4 separate regions of the Homo sapiens genome follow, and regions 1, 2 and 3 are each reported to be linked to region 4. Evidence: microRNA targets listed by miRTarBase, many of them from high-throughput screens and not tested one by one. Region 4 holds a microRNA gene; each other region holds the end of a gene's coding sequence.

Evidence for each region. The annotated mature microRNA hsa-miR-6796-3p reads GAAGCUCUCCCCUCCCCGCAG and lies in region 4 at 3,182-3,202, shown strand. An mRNA with a match to its seed (bases 2 to 7 or 8) in the 3' UTR can be bound and repressed. Matches are read on the target gene's strand: a 7mer-m8 pairs with bases 2 to 8, a 7mer-A1 pairs with bases 2 to 7 and ends in A, and an 8mer does both.
Region 1: the mRNA of SAMD9L is a reported target of hsa-miR-6796-3p. Seed matches in the 3' UTR shown: 7mer-m8 at 1,362-1,368 and 7mer-m8 at 2,249-2,255.
Region 2: miRTarBase lists ZNF75D as a target of hsa-miR-6796-3p. Seed matches in the 3' UTR shown: 7mer-m8 at 1,723-1,729.
Region 3: the mRNA of SLC7A14 is a reported target of hsa-miR-6796-3p. Seed matches in the 3' UTR shown: 7mer-m8 at 3,877-3,883 and 7mer-m8 at 5,011-5,017.

What each region holds. Positions count from the first base shown.
Region 1 is chr7:93,126,197-93,132,402 of GRCh38, reverse strand. SAMD9L (sterile alpha motif domain containing 9 like) reads left to right here. Exons shown (of 5, transcript NM_152703.5): 5 at 1-2,347. The coding sequence ends at 1,186. Among named protein-coding and RNA genes, the nearest start is that of SAMD9, 11 kb to the right of the region's middle.
Region 2 is chrX:135,282,638-135,288,843 of GRCh38, reverse strand. It overlaps ZNF75D (zinc finger protein 75D), which reads left to right. Exons shown (of 7, transcript NM_007131.5): 7 at 998-3,053. The coding sequence ends at 1,707. Among named protein-coding and RNA genes, the nearest start is that of ETDC, 24 kb to the left of the region's middle.
Region 3 is chr3:170,462,489-170,468,694 of GRCh38, reverse strand. SLC7A14 (solute carrier family 7 member 14) reads left to right here. Exons shown (of 8, transcript NM_020949.3): 8 at 1,318-6,206. The coding sequence ends at 1,640. It overlaps SLC7A14-AS1 (SLC7A14 antisense RNA 1), which reads right to left and starts at 1,410. Exons shown (of 6, transcript NR_135556.1): 1 at 1,299-1,410.
Region 4 is chr19:40,366,706-40,372,911 of GRCh38, forward strand. MIR6796 (microRNA 6796) reads left to right here and starts at 3,141; the gene lies at 3,141-3,202. PLD3 (phospholipase D family member 3) reads left to right here. Exons shown (of 13, transcript NM_012268.4): 5 at 68-210; 6 at 991-1,174; 7 at 3,203-3,323; 8 at 3,405-3,532; 9 at 4,968-5,168. RefSeq lists a silencer at 1,241-1,406 and an enhancer at 5,077-5,371.

The DNA of each region.
Region 1 (6,206 bases), not on the chromosome of region 4:
CATGTATAACACAGCTTGTTTCTTGGGTGAAATAGAAGTTGGTCTTTACACTATCCAGATTCTTCAGCTCACTCCCTTTTTCCACAAAGAAAATGAATTATCCAAAAAACATATGGTGCAATTTTTATCAGGAAAGTGGACCATTCCTCCTGATCCCAGAAATGAATGTTATTTGGCTCTTAGCAAGTTCACATCCCACCTAAAAAATTTACAATCAGATCTGAAAAGGTGCTTTGACTTTTTTATTGATTATATGGTTCTTCTGAAAATGAGGTATACCCAAAAAGAAATTGCAGAAATCATGTTAAGCAAGAAAGTCAGTCGTTGTTTCAGGAAATACACAGAACTTTTCTGTCATTTGGATCCATGTCTATTACAAAGTAAAGAGAGTCAATTACTCCAGGAGGAGAATTGCAGGAAAAAGCTAGAAGCTCTGAGAGCAGATAGGTTTGCTGGACTCTTGGAATATCTTAATCCAAACTACAAAGATGCTACCACCATGGAAAGTATAGTGAATGAATATGCCTTCCTACTGCAGCAAAACTCAAAAAAGCCCATGACAAATGAGAAACAAAATTCCATTTTGGCCAACATTATTCTGAGTTGTCTAAAGCCCAACTCCAAGTTAATTCAACCACTTACCACGCTAAAAAAACAACTCCGAGAGGTCTTGCAATTTGTAGGACTAAGTCATCAATATCCAGGTCCTTATTTCTTGGCCTGCCTCCTGTTCTGGCCAGAAAATCAAGAGCTAGATCAAGATTCCAAACTAATAGAAAAGTATGTTTCATCCTTAAATAGATCCTTCAGGGGACAGTACAAGCGCATGTGCAGGTCCAAGCAGGCAAGCACACTTTTCTATCTGGGCAAAAGGAAGGGTCTAAACAGTATTGTTCACAAGGCCAAAATAGAGCAGTACTTTGATAAAGCACAAAATACAAATTCCCTCTGGCACAGTGGGGATGTGTGGAAAAAAAATGAAGTCAAAGACCTCCTGCGTCGTCTAACTGGTCAGGCTGAAGGCAAGCTAATCTCTGTAGAATATGGAACAGAGGAAAAAATAAAAATACCAGTAATATCTGTTTATTCAGGTCCACTCAGAAGTGGTAGGAACATAGAAAGAGTGTCTTTCTACCTAGGATTTTCCATTGAAGGCCCTCTGGCATATGATATAGAAGTAATTTAAGACAATACATCACCTGTAGTTCAAATACGTTTATTTATATCTTTATGATTTTATTCTCTCTCTCTATTCTCATGGCACTTTCATAACATTATGGCTAACCTCTAATTACAGATTTTGCTTTTGCCTCCCTGAATGAATTACAAGCCTTTTTAAGATATGAAATATGCCTACCCGCAGAGCTTGGCACAAAGTGGAGTCAATCTTTTAATGTTTTAAATATGCATTTTCAGACTCAAATAATTAAGAAGTTTCATTGATATCCACTGGTCACATCATAACTGTCTATAGGGCAATAAAATCTGTGTTAAACTCAATTGCTTTTATAAGTTTTCTAAATTATTTCTTCACTGTGACAGCAAAGATTTAAATAAGATGAATGTAAAAGAGAAAGCTTATTGGACTCAAACCCACAGATCCACACCAGAGTTCTATTTACCTCATCTTGGTATCAATAAAAACTTATGTGGAAGGTAAATATATTGTTCCCCATCCACCACATAACACTCTCCCCAACACACACACACACACACACACACACACACACACACACACACACTCCTTGTACCCCTTGCCCTTCTCCCAGCTCATTGCTCCAGGAGAGAGAAGAGTTCAAAAAATAAAGTAATCATAAACTTGAACTCTCTCCATTCTCTTGTTCCCATTTACAGGTGAATCTCTTCCTTTAAGCCATTTTTGTCTCCTGTGAATACAGCCTTATCTCCACCTGTTTCTTAGATCCCATCTCCCCTGGCTTATTTTTTCCATTCATTACCCTCTTTGTTCCCTTTACTTCTCAACCTGTGCTATATACATGCTGTTCTCTCTGTTGAGATTGCCTTATTTCCATCTAACATTCTCTCTCCTGCTATTCTGATTTGTCATTCACAACTGATTTCAAGAGTCACCTTCACCAGGAAGTCTTCCTTGACCACCATCATTCCTGCCTGATTAGAGGGCTTCCTCATGGTAATATGTGTTCTCAAGTTTTCAGTGTCAAGGAATGCCATCCCAGAAGCTCATTCTCAGATGCACAACAGCCAGAACAGTCTCAAGCAGCATTCTAGAGCTTGGAATTTAAGAACTACGCATTGCCTATAAAGTGAAACATAGGCTAATATAGATTAAATTGAATATTGAATAAAAAATATATTTATTTATCCACATCTTTGTATCTCTTTGTAATGTAACTTAGATATTCTGGACTCCAAACCCAATTCTTCTTGTCATCAAGAAGTCTATGCTCTATCAGGGTTCTTCTGGCCTATATTTCTATGAATCTGGGCAACGCTCACATGGTCCAGAACATGTCCCTCTTTCTGAAAGCTGTGTCTGCTGCTGACCCTGCTCCAAACAGTTGCCTCCCTCTTCTGCAGTCCACCAGTCCATACAGTAACAGGATCTCCCAAGTGGCTATACTCCCCAAGTTGTTCATAGGCCTGGGGACATAGGCCTGATCCTATTTCTTTTAAACTCCCCTGCTGGACTATAACATTTAGTAAGACATAACTAAAGGCTTGATGTAGAGAAAAAAGTTATAATGAAAGGAGGAAAAACTACTAAATATTCCTGCTAACCATAATTATCTTTAGAGTTAATAATTCTGACCCCACCACCAGGTATCTTAGAGAGCTTCCTTCTCCTTAGCCCCCATTTCAACAGCCATGCTATAGAGTGATCTTTTCTCATTCTTCTGAATGCAACAACACCTAAACGTGAATGCTTGACTTAGAGAGTAGGATGCAAACCCTTTGATGCCCCCAGAAATAATTACATTCTTCCTGAAAAGAAATATAGTGTAATATGCAAAATGTCACCCCACCCTTAATGAGGAGAAGGTCTTACATTACTCTGCAGAGAAGTTTATGAACCTCAAAAATCTGAGACAGGTCTCAGTTAATTTAGAAAGTTTATTTTGCCAAGGTTGAGGATGTACATCTGTGACACAGCCTCAGAAGGTCCTGATAACATGTTCCCAAGGTGCACAGCTTGGTTTTATATATTTTAGGGAGACATGAGACATCAATCAATATATGTAAGATGTACATTGGTTCCGTCCAGAAAGGAGGGACAACTCAAGAAGGGAGGGAGCTTCCAGGCCACAGGTAGGTGAGAGAAAAACAGTTGCATTCTTTTCAGTTTCTGATTAACCTTTCCAAAGAAGGCAATCAGATATGCATTTTCCTCAGTGAGCAGAGGGATGACTTTGAATAGAATGGGAAGCAGGTTTGCCCTAAGCAGTTCCCAGCTTGACTTTTCCCTTTAGGTTAGTGATTTTGGGGGGCCCAAGATTTTCAAGATTTACTTTCCTTTCACATTTCCCCCCTTATCTTTTTTAAAATCTTCGGAGAAAGCATTTTAGAAGAAAATGAGTCTCTGGTCTCAGGTTTCATCTGGCCTCTCATGGCTAAAATGGTTCATTCCTAGACAGTTAGGTCCCAAGTTATTAGGAAAGCTTATTTTTAGCAAGTTGAGAAGTCTCATGTCCTATGCAGAGAAAACAGGGGGAGAGAGAAAAACTACAAGATATAAAAGAACAATCCTGGTAAATCGATATAGGTCACATTACTCTGAAGCCCGTATATCAGTAGGCAGGTTTGAAAGTGGCTTATGTATGTAAATAGGCTGCTGTTATTTCCTTTTGAAGTTTAAGTTATCTAGCATCAGGTCACAGGGCTTTACAAAAGCACAACTTAGTTTTCAGTGACTCCAAATGAGGAAAAATGGGGGGAAAAAGAAGGGAAAAAAATGAAAACATTATTTTGAAAACTTGTACCCAAGAAACATTAGAATTCAGCCCAAACTGTAGAAAATAATAAAAATTGAAAAATATTAGGCAAGACTAGAATCCAACAACAGATGTACCATAGTTTTTGAAACATAATTTTTCTCTCTCCAGTTTCCCATTTTTACTAAAGACACATCATGGTAGGACCGATTTGCTTTGTTGCACTTAGCCAGATTATTTGTATAAAGTGCAGCAAGAATAATTATTTTTCACATAGGCTTTTTAAATTGGCTTTGATGGAACTTTGTTCCATAGAAGGCATCTCAGATCAGCCTTTATTTTTTGTTTTTGGGTTTTTTTTTTTTTGCGATGGAGTCTCGCTCTGTCACCCAGGCTGGAGTGCAATGGTGCAATCTCAGCTCACTGCAACCTCTGCCAACTGGGTTCAAGTGATTCTCCTGCCTCAAACTGCCCAGCCATGTTTTATACCATCAAATACCTATGAGTTGGGTGAATTCTTCTCCCCTTGAGGTCCCAAGATAACTTGGGGCCCTGGGCCTGTCATAAAGTGTCATTCTTTATTTACCACAGGTCAGGAACCCTGTGCAGGGACTGTGTAGACAAGGTATAAGGCCAGTTTTCCCAAAAATCTTTTATTGGCTCTTTAGGGCAAGTTTGATTCTTTAAAGGAAAGCATGTCATTCCAGTCACAGCCTTGGTAAAATAACCAGTTTCTCCAATTGTGTCCTGTTACAAATGAAAACAAATTCTTATTGCACTTACATAAATAACTATACTGCCATAAATTAAGAATACTCAGAAATAGTTTCCAAATTCTGGAGAAATAAGGTAGAGAGAAACAAATATGCTCCAAATTTTGTTCATAGGAGTATACTTATTTGTAAAAAGCTGTCAATAGCTCAAAATAAAAGTTTCCTTGACTCTGAAAAACAAGACAAAGGATCAGCAACATTTTTTCAAATTTTTTCTTTTTTTCTTTATAATACTTTAAGTTCTGGATACATGTGCAGAATATGCAGGTTTGTTGCGCAGGTATACACATGCCATGATGGTTTGCTGCACTCATCAACCCATCATCTACATTAGGTTTTTTTCCTAATGCTATCCCTCCCCTAGCCTTCCACCCATCAACAGGCCCCAAGTGGTGTTCCCTTCCCTGTGTCCATATGTTCTCATTGTTCAATTCCCACTTACTAGTGAGAACATGCGGTATTTGGTTTTCTGTTCCTTTGTTAGTTTGCTGAGAATGATGGTTTCCAGCTTCATCCATGTCCCTGCAAAGGACATGAACTCATCCTTTTTTATGGCTGCATAGTATTCCATGGTGTGTATGTGCCACATTTTTTTAATCCAGTCTATCATTGCTGGGCATTTGGGTTGATTCCAAGTCTTTGCTATTGTGAACAGTGCTGCAATAAACATATGTGTGCATGTGTCTTTATAGTAGAATGATTTATAATTCTTTGGGTATATACCCAGGGTATATTGCAGGGTCAAATGGTATTTCTGCTTCTAGATCCTTGAGGAATCACCACACTGTCTTCCACAATAGTTGACTAATTTACACTCCACCAACAGTGTAAAAGTGTTCCTATTTCTCCACATCCTCTCCAGCATCTGTTGTTTCCTTTCTTTTTAATGATCACCATTCTAACTGTTGTGAGATGGTATCTCATTGTGGTTTGGATTTGCATTTCTCTAATGACCAGCAATTATGAGCTTTTTTTCATATGTTTGTTGGACACATAAATGTCTTCTTTTGAGAAATGTCTGTTCATATACTTCACCCACTTTTTGATTGGGTTGTTTGTTTTTTTCTTGTAAATTTGTTTAAGTTCCTTGTAGATTGTAGATATTAGCCCTTTGTCAGATGGATAGATTGCAAAACTTTTCTCCCATTCTGTATGTTGCCTGTTCGCTCCGATGACAGTTTATTTTGCTGTGCAAAGCTCTTTACTTTAATTAGATCCCATTTGTCAATTTTGGTTTTGTTGCCATTGCTTTTGGTGTTTTAGAAATGAAATCTTTGCCCATGCCTATGCCCTGAATGCTATTGCCTAGTTTTCTTCTAGGGTTTTTATGATTTTAGGTCTTATGTTTAAGTCTTTAATCCATCTTCAGTTAATTTTTGTACAAGGCATAAGGAAGGGGTCCAGTTTCAGTTTTCTGCATATGGCTAGCAAGTTTTCCCAACACCATTTATTACATAGGGAAACCTTTCCTCATTGCTTGTTTTTGTTTTTGTCAGGTTTGTCAAAGGTCAGATGGTTGTAG
Region 2 (6,206 bases), not on the chromosome of region 4:
GCTGCTACAGTGAATCAGAGTCACAATTTTAACTTCATTCTTATATTTGATACATTTTTGTGTGTAGAGTACAGGGTGTGCAAATTAAGCAATTTCAGTAAATATTAGAAATGTCAATTATTTTGCAAATATAAAGTGAGTGAAATCAGCTAATAATGCAATACAATAAGACTTGTGTTAAACAGAGCTTTTTCCCCATGAATACTTTTTACTCTTTCCTTTGAACATCTCGATACTTAAATACATTTCCTTTTATTGGCTTGCAGAAATTAAGCAAAAAGTGAACTATTACCTAGCTACAAGATACTAAATAGTATAAGAGTTTGGAGCTGTCCAGTTGTAATAAATAGAAAATAACAAATATAGTGAAATATGCTGCAAGTTAATGCTCAAAAATGCAGCCTTCTGAGTTACAAAGTACACAATCCTACTAGTCTTCTGAAGTTGTCATTAGTTCATGGAAAATGTAAAAAAGAGCAGAAACTCCATTTAGCTTTTACCTTTCCAGCAGCTCCAGTGCTAAAGTTATAGAATCATGTATGTTTGCCCAAGACCAACTGCACATTGGCGCTAGTCACATATTCTATTTTATCCAGAGTTCAATCAACAAGTCTTTATTTGCACTTCTTTTTACATTCAGGAAACAATAAGCCTACCCAGGCAGCCTTCTGTTGATAGTTGCCTTCTTCTGTTGGGTGTGGGGATATAAGCCACCCTGCTATGTTATTTTTTTTTTCTGGGGTCCTAAACCAGTTTGTCTTTTTCTTACCATTTTTAGAATTTTCTTTTTGTTATCTCATATCACTTAATGGGTTTGTTTTTGTGCCTATCAGGGAGGATCAAGGAGAAATGGGTCTATGCCATTTTGTCCAGACTGGACCAGAAATCACTTGTTCCTGTATTTCTTTTAAAGCAATCATCATTGACTTTTCTCTCCATTTATGTAGCTTTCTTTCACTGGGACACAGATGGCTGATTATTCTGTTTATTCTAACAGGGTTAAAGCTAAAAAATGACACTGGAAATGATCATCCTATATCTGTTTCTACATCAGAAATACAAACATCAGGATGCGAAGTATCAAAAAAGACCAGAATGAAAATTGCCCAGAAAACAATGGGCAGGGAAAATCCTGGTGATACACACAGTGTACAGAAATGGCATCGAGCTTTTCCAAGGAAGAAAAGAAAGAAACCTGCAACTTGTAAACAAGAGCTTCCAAAACTTATGGATCTTCATGGGAAAGGCCCCACAGGGGAGAAACCTTTTAAGTGTCAGGAATGTGGGAAAAGCTTCAGAGTTAGCTCTGATCTTATTAAACACCACAGAATTCACACTGGAGAGAAACCCTATAAATGTCAACAATGTGACAGGAGGTTTAGATGGAGTTCAGATCTTAATAAGCACTTCATGACCCATCAAGGAATAAAACCATATAGATGCTCATGGTGTGGGAAAAGCTTTAGTCATAACACAAATCTACACACACACCAAAGAATTCACACAGGAGAGAAGCCCTTTAAATGTGATGAATGTGGAAAAAGATTCATTCAGAACTCCCACCTTATTAAACACCAGAGAACTCACACAGGTGAGCAGCCTTATACGTGTAGCTTATGCAAGAGAAACTTTAGTAGGCGATCGAGCCTTCTTAGACACCAGAAACTCCACAGAAGAAGGGAAGCATGTCTAGTGTCTCCAAACTGAGGAAAGTTACCATGTAGAGCTTGACTTTAGAAGTGGTGAAAGAATACAAAATTATGAGGCACCCAATGATAGGAATCTGTGATTAATAAAACATTTGGGAAGGGTACATGTTACACTTCACAAAAAGGAATCTAAGCTGTCTGTTTTATTCAGCATTGCATCTTCTGTGCCTAGCACAAGAGTTGATACATAAGGAGTACTTTATAAATAAAAAAATGAAAGTGTAGTGATGAGATTCCTTTAGCTATCTATCTATATGTATATATCTGGTTATTCAAAGCTTCCCCACCCCCAGTCATCTAAATTTTTCAGGTATCAAGTGCTCAACAGACATATGATAGTCAAGGCTCTTAGTCTCATTTTTTACTCTTTGTCAAGAGAAATGGAAAATAAGAGTACTTGGGCCCTCTTAAGGGAGCTCAGAGAGAATTACTAAATTAGGGACAGTTTCAATAGTTATCATTCTGTCTACATGAACAATCAAGACCAGGACTCAGGGAACTTTACTCTGTAACAGAAAGAGAGGATTCAGTGTTTGCCCTGGGAGAATTGTCCCATTCTTGTTGCTTCTCTCCTGAGTACCCACTACCACAATGTCTTCTGTCAAGGAATTACAAGTAGCAAGGGAAGGTCTGAATGTAAGGACAGGCCTAGGGACCTTGCAAGCACTTGATATCTCTCCTCTTGCTGACTTTGTCAACATAGACATATAGTGAAATGATGAGGGAGGCAGTCTTGGCCCTCATCCAGGTATCTGGTTTTTTTTTGTAGAAAGCACAGATAAGTGGTAAATGGTCTTTTTCTGACTTTCATTATGTGGACTGGATGGAGGCTTTCAAACTGGTGCCATACTGCTGCAGGACCTAAAGGGAGCCCCATCTTTATGGCTGATCAACTACAACCCTATATGCCTGAATACTCTGCAAGAAGGCCTGGAGATTTTGCAAAACTGATTTATTGAGAATGGCAAGGAGAGCCTTGTGAACTTTTAGCTTTGGTGCACAGCTGATACCAGGAGGGAACATCCTGAAGTGTCAGAGAAAAGTAAGGCATATGGCTCACAGTGATGATGCCAGTCAGAGCCAGGCCAGATGGAAATTGTTTTCTGATGTTACTGGTTTTCTTTTCCCTATTAGCCAAAGTGACTATCTCTTAAGAGAAGATAATGTGACGTCAAGGGAAGTTGGAAGGCATGGATTTATATCTATGTCAGATCCTGGTTTATAATGTTGGCCAAGGCTTATTTATATATGTTTATTTAGTATTCCATAAAATTGTACTTCGTAATGAAAATGACACATTTTATCTTAAATTTAGACAATAAACAAAACTTTGTTACCAAATCACTCAGAAATGGCCAATGTTTGCTTTTTTGAAATGGATGTCTTCAGATATTTTTTCCACCAAGAGACCGTTCTAAGCCTGTTTCCAAATTTATAAAATGAGGATTATAATTCCTACTTCTTAGGGCTACTGTGAGGATTAAATGCACACATGTGAGCATGTCTGACACAATGATTGGCCACATTTGGTGTTTCCTAAACATTTGGAACTTTCTTCATTCTTCCTTCACCTAGTTATTTAGAAAAGAAAATAAGCTTTGTCTACTTGCCCAGCTTTTAAGCATTCTTCATTAATGAGTTTTCCATCATTTCTAGCTGGTTTTTAGGCCCACTAATGATGGTCAGAATGGTAGCCTTCTGGCATGACATTCATTTGGTTCTAGAGGTGCTCCTCTCTAGTCAGCCTGAAACAATACACTGATGTCCCAATTCAGCTAGCTATACTGCTCATGAGTAACAAAACCAAAATATACTACAAACCCTCAACTTGAGATTCCTGAAAATGGAGGGGAGGTGATGGCTAGGGGTGGAATTTTTGTGGACAGTATTTATGCTACTAGGTGCATCCTCAAGCCAATAAAGTAGAAATGAAAGAGGAAAGAGGTGACTGCACATAATGGCGACTAAAAAGAATGAAAGTGCTAAGCCAAAAGGAGGAAGTGACCTGGGAGGAAAGGATCTCATATTCCCAAAGGCTTGGAGACTATGACTGCCTCACCACCCCTCCTCCTAGAATGATCTGAGATTGTGCCCTTGAAACTAAAATGGGAAATTCAAATTCCTGCAGGGGACTCCATTCTCTTTGTGTGAATCCATGTTTGCTAGCATCCTGGATAGCTGCTATCATACCACCATTCAAATAAATTTATTCATGTAGCTTTTATAAAGAAGGGAGGTTAACTAAAAAATTCAAGGATGTACTAGGTCAATGGACCCAGCAGTTATACTCATGAGAATCAGCAAAGTCCCCCAGAACAAGTCAGCAAAAGAGCACTCCACTTTCCTAAAGCTGCTTACCCCTGTTATAATACCTGTTACCTTCAAAGCTTATCGTGCAGGTCCTCATCTACACTGGCATCATTATCAGCAGGGTTTGAGAGCAGGGAACATGGGTTCTATTTGAGAGATCAATTATTTAAGGCAAGTGGCAGGAAGTGACTGCCTTTAGATGGGTCTGAGCAGAAACAGAGAACTGGGATTTGTTATTCCAAGTTCAGATACTCCACCATCATTTGAATACAAGGGCCCCAGGAAAAAGCACATTCTCATCCCTGAGGTTGTGGAACAGGATCTAGAAATCAGTGCTCCTGGCTGACTCATTAGTGCCCAGTCTGCCCTTCAGCCCTCTGACACAGTCTCCTAGGGCCACATTCCCCGTGCATCCTGACTACTCATGTCATCCCTTGCCAACTCAGAAAAAGAGGAGAAATGTATGTCCATGGAGATATGGGAAGTAAGGAAATAAATGGCAGAATGAGATAAAGGGAAGAGATGTCATTCTATTGCATAACTGCCCACCACCTTCTCAGTACATGGCTAATAGACATGAGCTCCATTGCCTTTCTGAGGACACAAGAGAAAGGCAGCATACAAAAGCTCAGGAACTGGAGAAATGGACAGATTATTCATTCATGGGACAGAGTGAAGAGGCAGAATGCTCCAATTCTTGATCCCACAGACAGAGATGGAACTGAAGAACTGAACCAAGTGTGAGGGGGTATGAACTCGTTTTCCAGTCTCTGTGCTCCCAGAGAAGATGAGCTGAGCAGAGAAAGATAAGAAAGGGTCTAGGAGAGCAGAGTTTAGCAGGCTTTTTCCACTTGTGTGCATTTGTGAGGACTGAGATTGGAAGTCAGGGACTCAGGGAGCCGAATGCCATTGCTTGCTGTGGATGAGACACAAGAGCATGTGAGTGGGTCAAGCCTACCCTGTGCCAGACTCAGGTCTCCACCTTTTCCCTCCCAGCAAACAATGACATGGTTTCTACCCATGGGCCTTTTTGGGTTCCTTCTAGCTCCTTCTCCACTCCCAAGAAACCTCTTCCTCCTTTATTGCCTTGTTCTGTCTGCCACAGGCCAATCCTGCTCCTGCCACTTTGCCACTTCCATTCTTTCAGGGAAGGAGAGGAGGAGGGGCCCAAAGACAGGGTGTAGTGAGTGTTATTGTGTTCCACTATTCCCAGAGGAATGGGCACAATAACTGAGAGTGGAAAGGCAGAGTTGGGGAGAGAAGAATAAACAAAACGGAATCATGGCCTAGTCTTCTGTCAAGTAATTTAAAGGCTCTCCTTGCTACTTCCCCTTTAATCCTTGAAAAACACTAAATGGCAGGTAGGTGGGCATGGTGATGACCATGTTGGGGAGGAAGCTGTTCCTCATTTAAAGGAGGGGGCTACCTACAAACTTCTGTTCTTAGCTCAACAGCAAAGCCCTCCCATTCTCATTCTTGTTTTCTTTGCCTTCCTCTTCTCCCTCCATGCTCCCTGATCCTTCCTACCATTGTGGGTTCATGCATGAGACACTGGTAGAGAAGAAGGGACAGGAAGCCAGGGAAACTCTCAAGGACCATCAATCATGAGATATAAAGGGAGAGGTCAGGAGCCATGTTTGAGAGCAGTAGAGGGATAATATCACTCTTAGATCTGGACAACCCAGGGAAAGAAGAGAGGGAAGGAGGCCAGGTCAGCTTTGAGAAGCAGTTCTGCTCCAGGGCTGGGAGTTAGGGAGGAAGTAGGGAGGAGGACCTATGCAATGCCAAGAAAGATTTCCCTTGTCCCTCTTTAGGCTCTGTGTATCTCAGTGTGAGACTTGGGATGATTAGTTGACCATAAATGTATGATTTTGGTGGCTGGTAAGATGGCCAAATAGGAACAGCTCTGGTCTGCAGCTTCCAGTGAGATCAATGCAGAAGGTGGGTGATTTCTGCATTTCCAACTGAGGTACCCAGCTCATCTCATTGGGACTGGTTAGACAGTGGGTGCAGCTCATGGAGGGTGAGCAGAAGCAAGGTGGGGTTCACCTTACCCGGGAAGTACAAGGGGTTGGGAGAACTCCCTCCCCTAGCCACGGGAAGCCCTGAGGGACTGTGCCCTGAGGGATGGTGCATTCCAGCCCAGATACTACACTTTTCCCATGGTATTCACAACCCACAGACCAG
Region 3 (6,206 bases), not on the chromosome of region 4:
AGTCTTACTTATCATGTTCTATGGACTCCAAGGTTATGGTTCCCAGACTTCCAGGCCCTGAACCTTCACAGTCTATTCAAGATAGAAAATGGGGACTCAGGCCAGGACTGATGGCTCATGCCTGTAATCCCAACACATTGGGAAGTGGAAGCAGGCGGATCACTTGAGTCCAAGAATTTGAGACCAGCCTGGGCAACATGGTGAAACTCCATCTCTCAAAAATACAAAAATTAGCTGGGCGTGGTGGCACATGCCTGTGGTCCCAACTACTCGAGAGGCCAAGGCAGGAGAATCGCTTGAGCCCATGAGGCAGAGACTGCAGTGAGCCGAGATCATGCCACTGCACTCCAGCCTGGACAACAGAGTGAGACCCTGTCTCAAAAAAAAAAAGAAAAGAAAAAGAAAATGGGTACTCATAAATGACTTTTATGCATGTTTTTTAAATCATAGAAATGAAACATTAGCATATATGAATGCTACATATTAACGAGGGGGGCAAGTTTCTTTCCTTTGATTGGGATGACATCAACACAGAGGTTGCACTGGACATTTCACGCTTATCAGGAGTTCTCACCCATTCATTCAACAAACATTAAGTGCCAATTTTCTGCAGAGTCTACGACCCTGTGCAGATAATCACACAACAGATGTTCTAAGGGACATAATAGTAGCATGCACTAGACACTCTGAGAGCACACAGAAGAAAGCAGGCAGCTTGGAGTGGCCATGATATATCACGCCTTTAGTGAGTGTAAAATGTCAAGGTAAATCACAGGATAATATATGCATGCTGCTAAGAGGTGAAACATGAGATAGAGTCCCTAACTGGAGGCAGAGAATAATCAAATCTTATAAGAACGTTGGGAATAAACTGTTGCTGATCCATAAATAGTTCACCCAGGGTAGAAAATGCAAATTCCTGGCTGGCAGCTATATGAGTGTAATGAGCCCGACGTCAGCATGGGAGGTGGGGACTGAGGTAACCTAGAGACCCTGTATCCTGTCTAAAGAGGCAGCCAGTTCTCAACACCAGCCAAAAATCACCATGTAGAAATGTGGATGCAGTGTTGTCAGACCTTTTGACTTTTCTAGGAAAATCTGTAAATATGGGTTACTTAACGCAAGATCTCCCAATTTTTAAAAGGCATCTAATTCAAGTATTTTCAAAACACCACATAAAGCAAAGAAAATACATCCCCGCCCCCACCGCCCCCCACCCCGCCAGCTTTGATTTCATCACTGAAGGTGATCTCTCTGCTAGTCCCAGGATCCCAAAGCAATTGCTTATTCACCTGTACCTTTCCCCTCGCCCCACAGGTCTGCTCATTTATTTTGGATATGGCATCTGGAACAGCACCCTGGAAATCAGCGCTCGAGAAGAGGCCCTGCACCAAAGCACGTACCAACGCTACGACGTGGATGACCCCTTCTCAGTGGAGGAGGGTTTCTCCTACGCCACAGAGGGCGAGAGCCAGGAGGACTGGGGCGGGCCCACTGAAGACAAAGGCTTCTATTACCAACAGATGTCAGATGCGAAGGCAAACGGCCGGACAAGTAGCAAAGCGAAGAGCAAAAGCAAACACAAACAGAACTCAGAGGCCCTGATTGCAAATGATGAGTTAGATTACTCTCCAGAGTAGGAGAAACACACAAGTGGGTAGAAATGGTGATGACTGATTTTCAGTAACTTAACCTGTGGGCTAGAAGGTGAAAACTTTTTTGGCTCTCATTTCACAAATCCAGCCTTCCCCAAATTCAATCCCTAGTCATAGCCTGTCATTTGCTACTTTTGCTCTTCAGGATAGTTCTGTTGAAGGGCTTAACCTGGGTCCCCTAACTGGTCGCCTTGTTAAATAAAATAAATAAATAAACAAGAGGCTATATGAAATTCCATCTTAGGTGCAACCACCAGAGCTGATGGTACCAAATGTTTCCTAGGCCTTTGCTTTGCTGGTTGAAGCCCAAGCAGGGGCTCTGGGCAGAAGGCAGAATTTCAGTCACCTGAGACATGGGGACAAAGCTCTGTTCTTGGCATGTCAGGCTGAGTGCTGCTCCCCGAGGTCAGGGTGGGTAGATGGGCATTGGCACTTCCTGAGCAAGCATCATTTTATCCTGCAATCTCACCCAAAATTAATTCATGGAAAAGACACATGCTTCTTTTTATTCACCAACATTCTCACAGCTTCCAAACTATAATTTTAGGATCCAGCAAAGTTCAGGGACTCTGGACCATTTTCCCAATGGTTTCAGATTCACCATAAAGCAGTCAGGCAGACCCAGTGATATGGTAAGAAGCACCATCAAAGCTCTATGTAAATGCCCAGAAGAAAATTAAATAACCATATCTTGCGGTAAAAGCCAGAAGGGCATTGGCAGAAATTAACTCTCTGTCATGGCCTCTCTTATATCAGACTGCAGCTCCTGGTGATATGATGAAAGCGGGCAAAGGTGGAGCATGATTTCATGGCACTGATATGCCTTGAAAAAGTAGGTTGTTTGTTTTATAATCAGATAAAAATTTTTACAAGGAGAAGTGAGCCAGCCACTGAGATCACATTGCAAATTCTCTTTCATATTTCTAAAATTATAAATTCTAAAGTTTTTGAGATAGGCAACCACTTGATTGGTGTGTGCTACTCTGAAAACAAAATAGGCTGAAGTATAGCGACTTAGGTAGTTGCATTCCATGAGATCACATTTCACTTCTGAACCTTATTCCTTGGGGCTAGCTCACTTTCAGAGGTGTATTTTTTTTTCCTGTTATTTCCCAGAGTAGTTTCACTGAAGCCCAGAGAAATATCTACCTGGTAAGATGTAAATTTGGGCCATAAAAGGGGCTATTAAAAGAATTTTCTCAGAAATAGAATAGATGAGAGAATTTGCAAAGGAAAAAAACACACATGGGCTACAATATAAATTCTACTCTTGGGTTACAAGAATTCCTGTGGCTGCACTGAGATACGTACAAATGTATGTGAAGGCACAATTTGAATCAAGCTATCATAGAATTAACCAAGCTATTAAAATTAATCAAGCTATTAATAAAATCTCTGTGAGGATTTCCTGAAAGAGGGACAAAAGAAGAAATTCCTTGTCCTTTCTCTCCTGGATGTATCAGTATGCCAAACGTTTTCCAGAACATATTCGCTAGCACTCAAGTCTGTTCTTTCTGAAAGGCTGAGGCTCATGCCATCTTGGCATGCTTTAGGATTATGGCAAGGAGGTAAAAGTCCATTTTTTCATTCAACTAACACTGGTTGAGAATAGACCCAATGCTAAGTGACAGGAATGAATAGAAGCATGGCACTTGCCCTTGGGGGCTACAGTCCATGGATGAGCAGCACTGGAGCCTGGTAAATGCAGATAAAACAACAAACTTGACAAGTCTCCAGGCTGATGCACTGGGTTTTAACATACATATAAAGATGAATTGAAACTAGTTTTTAAAAAATATGCTTTAAATAAATTACATATCGTAATCATAGCCAATGTATACCATTAAACTAAAATAACTGCAATTTTCTAGATATTTTTTATTCTTCTGTAGTCATTGTTTAGAACTCTGGTTTCCTGAGGTCATTTTGTCATTTTAATATCATGCTTGACAATGCTATGTTTTCTCTTCCCTAGAGTTAACCATAAAGATACAGTGCCTACTCTGTGAAATACAGCATTAGGAATTAATTATAAACTAATTATCAGTCATCTTTTGAAAACAAAGTTTTGAATTGGCTATAGGACTCAACAAATCTGCCTGGTGTAAATAGAATCTGTTAAGCTTGATACATATCTAGATAGATGAGGAGGGGTTGTATTCATTAAGCATGAGAATAGAGAAATAGGAGTGCAAAATGGCAAAATCTTAACGTGGGTGAAAGAGCTTCCTTTTACTAGTGAGGTTTAAGTATTAAAGTAACAATAGCCTGGTGGCAGATGAATGCAATTTCTATAGGATGGGAATGGAAAATGTATGCTTTGGTTAACACCATTGCTGTTGACTTCATGCAGATTCTATTAAGCACTCTCATTTCAGGAGCCATTTTTCCCACATAGTATATTAGTATATTTTAAGCTTAGCTCCCTTTATTTTTCTAAAGTTGATAAATCACCTCCCTAGCAACCTTAGTTTTAAAAAAAAAATCACTAAGATAGAAAAAGTATTTTCAGGTACATAGACATGTTTGTCCTCAGGTTTACCTGCTTCTGTGAACAGTCCCAGATTTTACAATGCAGTTTTCAAATACCATCAATCACTACAATGACAATATTACTATTTTCTTAACAGGTTTCTAAACGATGTATGTGTGGGATCACATTAAAAGTAAGATCACCTTATAATTATCTTAGAAACTTTGCCCCTTGAAGGGAGTCCAAGGAAGACCTACATTTTATTGAATTCTGAATAGCAAAAGCTCTCCGAGTGAGATTTCATTGTGTGGATTTGTGGTTTGGAGCCAATTACTTGATTTTCTTCAGATTTTATTCTACTTATTTATTGGTACTCTGCTTCATTTCAAAAGGATTTGAGGCAGCTACTAAAATATATATAATACAAAACAAAAATTAAGTGAGGAACTCAGAGCAAACAAAAATAGAAACAGAAAGGATAAGACAAAACTAGACGTATATTTAGTACATAAATGCAGAACCCTGACATGCTTTACTAAATTTGCCAATGAGTGACACCATGAAAAATAATAGAATTAGTGGTAATGACAAGAAGAAGTACTTCTGCATGATAAGAACAAATCTTTCCCCATGCAGGTAGAGGTTTGAAATAGCATAGATCATTAAAATCCACAGGTAAGCTTCAAACCTAGATTTTGCTAGCTACATGTGCCTGGCATATAGTGTGTATTCAAGAAATACCTGATGATTGACAGAATGAATGAATTGGAGGAAAATGAAATATTTATTCAACAATTACTTGTGGAGTGCCTATTATGTACTATGGCAGATATTGATATCGTAAGTCAGATAAAAATCCAGCTCTTAAGAAGTAGAGGAAATAGAGCTTGGTGTGGTGGCATGTGCCTATGATCCCAGATAGTTGAGAGACTGAGGGAGGAGGATCACTTGAGCCCAGGAGTTCAAGGCTGCAGTGAGCTATGATCACACCACTGTACTCCAGCCTGGGTAACAGAAGAATACCCTGTCTCTTAAAAAGGAAAATCAAATAGGGGAAATGGGATATATAAATAAAGAACAATAGTGAATGTGTCAGGTGAGATGACGGACTTGTAATGTGCTGTGGGGGGTCAAATATGAAGAAGGCCTTCTTCCTCTGGAAAGGTCATAAAGAATGTCACACTTGTGTTGGAACTTGTGAAGTGGGTAGAATTTTATCAAGTAGAAATGAGAGAAAGGCATGCCAAGCAAAGGATCGGCATGAATAAGGTCTACTAGTTTGTGGTCCTCTGGCTAAGAATTTGTGCTGTGCCTCCATTAAGAGAAAGCAAGGAGCTAGTTTGCCTGGAGCACATGATTTATGCATGACTTATACATGCAACAATAAGAAATAATGCTAGGAAGGCAGGTGAGGGATCACTCACAGAGAGACTTGAATGTCACACTGAGCTGACTGGCTTTCCTCGGGTGAGAGAGTGGGAAATAATTGGGGAACTGACGAAAGTGTGAATCCAGGAAGGCTGAACTTTAAGAAAGCTGAGACGGTGGCTTCCTTACCTATGCAAGGAACTAACAAGCCACATATACACTCCAAATTGATTTAACAAATTAAAGAGAAAAATAGCTGTACTTTGAGTCCTGTGTCTGCATTCATCATTAACCTAAGAAAATACAGCCATTTAATACGTGGACAAGCAACACAATTTAACAGCCACTTTAAAGTTTTCAACAATAGGTTTCAACAACTAAACCTAACAACTTTTTATATCTATCTAATCTAAACAGTAAAATCTCAGCTCCAGGTTTTACTGAGCTTGAGTGCTACTTTTTTTTTTTTAGACAGAGTCTCATTCTGTCACCCAGGCTGGAGTGCAGTGGCATGATCTTGGCTCACTGCAACCTTCACCTCCCGGGTTCAAGCTATTCTCCTGCCTCAGCCTCCCAAGCAGCTGGGATTATAGGCGTGTGCCAGTTCTACTTCTTAGTAACAAACTAGTAGCTAATCAAATGCCTACATAATGGTCATGATAAATCTGTTTAAATAAATGGCGGGCGGAAGGGAGTTGTTGAATTTAACA
Region 4 (6,206 bases):
CGCTCTGTCTCAGAGACAGGCTGGGCTGCCCCCCTCGGGCTGGCTGACCACCTCCTCCTCCCCACAGAAAGCCCGCTGGGTCCTGCTGGTCCTCATTCTGGCGGTTGTGGGCTTCGGAGCCCTGATGACTCAGCTGTTTCTATGGGAATACGGCGACTTGCATCTCTTTGGGCCCAACCAGCGCCCAGCCCCCTGCTATGACCCTTGCGAGTAAGTGGGGGGTGCTGCAGTTGGTGGGGGAGGGGCCTGCCAGACCAGGTACACTTAAGCACACACTAAACAGGGCCTGCACTCAGCCCTACCCAGCGCTTGCGACAAGTGAGGAGGTTGCAGGCTCCCAAGTGCTCGCCCGCCCCCTCCTCCTCCACACACATAGTTTCTATGGCAGCCACAGCGTCATCTTCTGTCAGGCCTGTGAACAGACACAGCATCTTCCACCCACATCTGTGGACCCACACACACATCTCAATACACGACCTTCCTTCCACACCTCTAGACAGACACGCAGAGGATCATGAGTCCAGGCACGCATTCAAATACACACAGTTTTAAAAAATTTTTTTTAAAAGAAAAGAAAAACTCAAATACAGTTTAGCTGGGCTTGGTGGCTCACGCCTGTAATTGCAACACTTTGCGGGGCTGAGGCGGGAGGATTGCTTGAGCCCAGGAGTTCCAGACCAGCCTGGGCAATGTAGTGCGGCTCCATCTCTACTAAAAGTAAAAAAAGTAACCAGGCATACTGGTGCACACCTGTAGTCCCAGCTACTCAAGAGGTTGAGGCGGGAGGATCGCTTGAGCCCAGGGGTTCGAGGCTGCAGTGAGCTGAGATGGCGCCACTGCGCTTCCAGCCTGGGGGACAGGGCAAGACTCTGTCTCTAAAAAAAAAAAAATACAGTCTATCCAACACACCCATGGACGGACAGCTGAGCACTCACCTCCCAGCCCTTGCTCTCCGGCACCGTATGGCTGATAGCATCCCCCACCCCCCAGAGCAGTGCTGGTGGAAAGCATTCCTGAGGGCCTGGACTTCCCCAATGCCTCCACGGGGAACCCTTCCACCAGCCAGGCCTGGCTGGGCCTGCTCGCCGGTGCGCACAGCAGCCTGGACATCGCCTCCTTCTACTGGACCCTCACCAACAATGACACCCACACGCAGGAGCCCTCTGCCCAGCAGGTACCTGCAACCTTGGCCCTGGCCGGCAGCAGGGGCAGGGGGTGGGAGGCAGCGGGGGCTGTGGGGAATGAAGGGGTTTCTCCTGCAGCCCAGGAGACAGAGGGGTGTGTCTCACACAGCAGATTGGACACAGGTGTTTGCAAGCAGCTGTCGTCACGTGGCTCTCTGGACTGGGGGCGTTTGTCACGGTCATCTGTAGGCCTCTGAATGTCAGGGTGCGGGTTTGGTTACAAGGGATTATTAGGCTGGCAGATGTCACTCACCCACAAGCTGTCCTGACCCAGTCACACAAAGAAAGGGAAGAGTGGAGTAATTAACAGCCCAGCCTCAAGACAGGGGCCACCTCCCAGCTGTGTGACCCCAGGCAGGCCACCTCTTCTCTCCAGCTTCAGTTTCTTTATCTGTAAAATGGGGCCAATTTATAGCACCTGCTTCTTAGGGCTCTTGTGAGGATGAAATGGACTAATCCATGCAAATTTTAGCACAGTGCCTGGCACAGAGTCAGCCTTTGTGAGTCTGCTGTTACTATATATCCTGGTATGGTCTGCAGACAAACTTAAAGAACATAAAAGCTTCACAATTTGAAAAGGAACAGCCTACATGGATAACCTCTTCCATTGAAAAACCATGAATTTGTTCCTTCTGTTTTCTTCTCCCTACTGGCTCTTTTTGTGAGAAGTTGTCTTAAAACTTAACTAAAATTACAAGGCTCCTTAAGAACTGCCTGAAAAAAATAATTATGGCCAAGTGTGGTGATTCACACCTGTAATCCCAGCACTTTGGGAGGCCTAGACAGGAGGATCACTGGAGCCCAAGAGTTCGAGACTAGCCTGAGCAACATAGTGAGACCCGCCCCCCACCTCCCCTCAACCATCTCTACTAAAAATAAAAAAAAATTAGGAGGGTGTTGTGGTGCATGCCTGCAGTCTCAGATACTCAGGAGATGGAAGGAGGAGGATGGCTTGAGCCCAGGAGTTGGAGGCTGCAGCGAGCCGTGATCATGCCACTACACTCCAGCCCAGGCAACATAGCAAGACCCTGTCTCAAAAAAAAGAAAAAGAAAAAGTAATAATAATAATTACAAAAGTTAAAAACCAAAGCCAGGCATAGTGGTACACACCTGTGGTCCCAGCTACTTGGGAGGCTGAAGCAGGAGAATGACTTGAGCCTAGGAATTGGAGGCTGCAGTGAGCTGTGATCATGCCACTGCACTCTAGCCTGGGCAACATAGTGAAACCCTGTCTCTAAAAAAAAATTTTTTTATGTTAAAAAACCGTATGAGCTCCCACTCCCTGCTGGCTCCCTCTAAAGTGGTTTAAAACACAGATGTAGGAGGCAGATGGTCTGGGTTCAAATCCTGCTCCATAGCTGGATGTGGTGGTGCACTCCTGAGGTACTAGCTACTTGGGAGACTGAGGCAGGCGGAATGCTTGAGCCCAGGGATTGAAGATCAGCCTGGGCAACATAGCAAGTCCCTGTCTCAACAAACAAACAAACAAAAAAACAAAAACAAAATCCCACTCCACTACTGAGTTCTCTGTGGGGATTATAATTAAACCAGCCTCACTGGGTTGTGAGAATTCAGTGAGTTCGCTGAGAAGAGGCCTAGAACAGGGCCTGGCACACAGTAGGTTCCAGGGCATCCTTGACTGTTGCTGTTGTTGGCATCATCGTGCCTCACCCGATACCTTCCAGGACCCCCTGCCTGAGCCTCGCCCCCACCATACTGGGAGATGCCTGGAGGCCCTGCCTTGATGCTGAATTTTGAGAAAGTCCCTGGAGGGGCAGGAGGGGTCAGGAGGACTTGGAGGGGGATCACAGGGCAACTAATTATTAAAGCAGATAAAGATGTTTAAAACAGATAAGGAAGTCTTTTAATATTTTAATCTGTAAAGTCTTTAATCTATGCAGGCTAATGTAAAGTCTGTTTACTCCTAATCATGTCTCAAAATAACTCCACCGGGCATTACCTTGTGGGGTTGGAGAGCTGGCTGGTCCAGCCCCTCAGAAGCTCTCCCCTCCCCGCAGGGTGAGGAGGTCCTCCGGCAGCTGCAGACCCTGGCACCAAAGGGCGTGAACGTCCGCATCGCTGTGAGCAAGCCCAGCGGGCCCCAGCCACAGGCGGACCTGCAGGCTCTGCTGCAGAGCGGTGAGCTGGGGCCCAACTGGGGCTGGTCTGGGCCTGGGGGTACCCAGCCTGGCCCCTGATCTCTGCCCCTGCTGGTCACAGGTGCCCAGGTCCGCATGGTGGACATGCAGAAGCTGACCCATGGCGTCCTGCATACCAAGTTCTGGGTGGTGGACCAGACCCACTTCTACCTGGGCAGTGCCAACATGGACTGGCGTTCACTGACCCAGGTCTGTCTGCACCCTGTCTACCTTCCTTCCAGGCCACTCCCTGCCCCACAGGGCACCCAGCCTCCGACTGCATCCCTCACTCAATCCAGAGTCCTCTCCACCCATTCTCTGTAATGGCTTCCTTCTTGCCTCCTACCAGGCCTCCCTAATCCAAGCCATGCACGGTGGCTCACACCTATAATCTCAACACTTTGGGAGGCCAAGGTGGGAGGATTGCTTGAGCCCAGGAGTTGGAGACCAGCCTGGGCAACATAGTGAGACCCCATCTCTACCAAAAAAAAAAAAATAAGCCCGGTGTGGTGGCACACACCTCTGGTCCCAGCTCCTTGGGAGACTGAGGTGGGAGGATCACTTGAGCCCAGGAGTTTGAGGCTACAGTGGGTTGTATTCATGCCACTGCACTCCAGCCTGAGTGACAGAGTGAGACCCTGTTACAAAACAAAGAATCCCTAAATGGAGCCCTCTACTGCCCTCCCCCTGCTCCTGGAAGCCTGGGGCTCCCTCTGATCCCCAATTGCAGCTACCAGCCCCTCTACATGGCATTCAAGAACCTGCGCACCCATTTGATCTTCATTGTACATCTCTGTGTGCCTGCTCTAAGTCCAGCCCTATCCTGGGTAATGTTGGGAACATGGTGGTAACAGATGGACCTCATGGAACTCCCAGCCCAATGCAGACTGGCCTGTCACCTGACAGTGACAGCCCAGAGGGGTCAGGGCCGGGGTTGGGGAGACACAGGCAGAGGGTCAGGGCCAGGATGGAGGGAACAGAGGGCTGTGGAAGCTCAGAGACCCCAACCTGGGGCATTGGAGGGTTTCCCAAAGGAGGTATAACTAATCTGATCCCTGAAGGATAGGGAGGAATTAGCGCAAGATGGAACAGGAAACAGCTTGGGCAATGAGGTGAAGATAAGACAGGACAATAACTCATGAATTCATTTCCTCAACAGATAGTTCCCCTAACCTTTAATCTCAGCAATTATGCAGGGAGATGCTGTAGATATAGCTGTGACTGAGACATCCCTAGTGCCTGTCCTCCCAGCCCAATGGGAAGACCAGTTTGTCACCAGAAAGAATGAGGAGGGAATCCCAAGGGACTGTGAGAGCCCAGAGGAATGCCTGGTGCAGGCTGGGTAGTCATGGGAGGCTTCCTGAAGGAGGCAACATGTCAGCCTAGACCTAAGAATGAGTAGAAGCTAGCTCAGTGGAGGGTAGAAGCAACAGCAGATTGCAAACGTTCAGGAAACCTGGAGCTTTGGAATAACTGATTTTCATCAAAACTTAAGTTGATAATCATTCTAGGACTTTAGCTATTGGAGCTGGGGTGGAGGGGGTACTGTGGGACAGGGGGAAAGACAGAGACCAGACTGGGGAGTGTCCCTGTCATCTGTGAGCACTAGGCCGCTATCGCTGAGCTCAGCACTGCCCTCCTACAGGTCAAGGAGCTGGGCGTGGTCATGTACAACTGCAGCTGCCTGGCTCGAGACCTGACCAAGATCTTTGAGGCCTACTGGTTCCTGGGCCAGGCAGGCAGCTCCATCCCATCAACTTGGCCCCGGTTCTATGACACCCGCTACAACCAAGAGACACCAATGGAGATCTGCCTCAATGGAACCCCTGCTCTGGCCTACCTGGCGGTGAGTCTGGGGCAAGTGGGGCCTGTCATGTCCCAGCCCCATGCCGTCACTCACAGCCTCCATCTGTCCCTGTTTGGTGATGACAGGGAGGGCGTATCCTGACCATCAGTTCTCACCCCAGCTCATTCTGCTTGGTCAGGGGCCTGGAGTAGTTCCCAACATCCCTCGGCCTCTATTTCAGTTAGAAAATGGGTATTGTTTCCAACCTGTTAGGGCTGCTGGGAGAGGTACCCTGGGTTCATGCACACCAAACCTTTGGTGCTCTATATCATCCAGTATAGCCACAGGTGGCTCTTTCAGTTTAAGTTAATTAAATGCAATTAACAATTCAGGCCAAGTGGGGTGGCTTATGCCTGTAATCCCAATACTTTGGGAGGTTGAGGTGACAGGATCACTTGAGGCCAGGAGTTTGAGACCAGCCTGGACAACATAGCAAGACTCCATCTTTACAAACAAACAAACAAACAAACAAAACTAGCTGGGTTGGGTTGTGCATGCATGTAGTCACAGCTACGCAGGAGGCTGAGGCAGGGGGATCACTTGAGCCCAGGAAATCTAGGCTGCAGTGAGCCATGATCACACCACTGTACTCCAGCCTGGGTGACAGCCTGTTTCAAAAAAAAATTGTTTCAAGCCAGGCATGGTTTCTCATCCCTGTAATCCCAGCACTTTGGGAGGCCAAGGCCAAGATGGGAGGATCACTTGAGGCCAGGAGTTCATGACCAGCCTGGGCAACATAGGGAGACATCATTTCTTTCTATTTTTTTTTTTTTTTTGGTCTTATTATTTATTGTTCTAGATAGGATACCCAAGAACTAGGGAGACACCATTTCTACAAAAACATAATATTAATTAAAATTAGCCGGGTGTGGTTGTGTGCACCTGTAGTCCCTGGGGAGGCTAAGACAGGGGGATCACTTGAGCCCAGGAGTTTGAGGCTGCGTGAGCTGATTGTACCACTGCACTCCAGCCTGGGCAAGAGGCTGTTGCCCTGTCTCCAAAAAAAGAAAAAATTCAGTTCCTCATGCAGTAGCCACA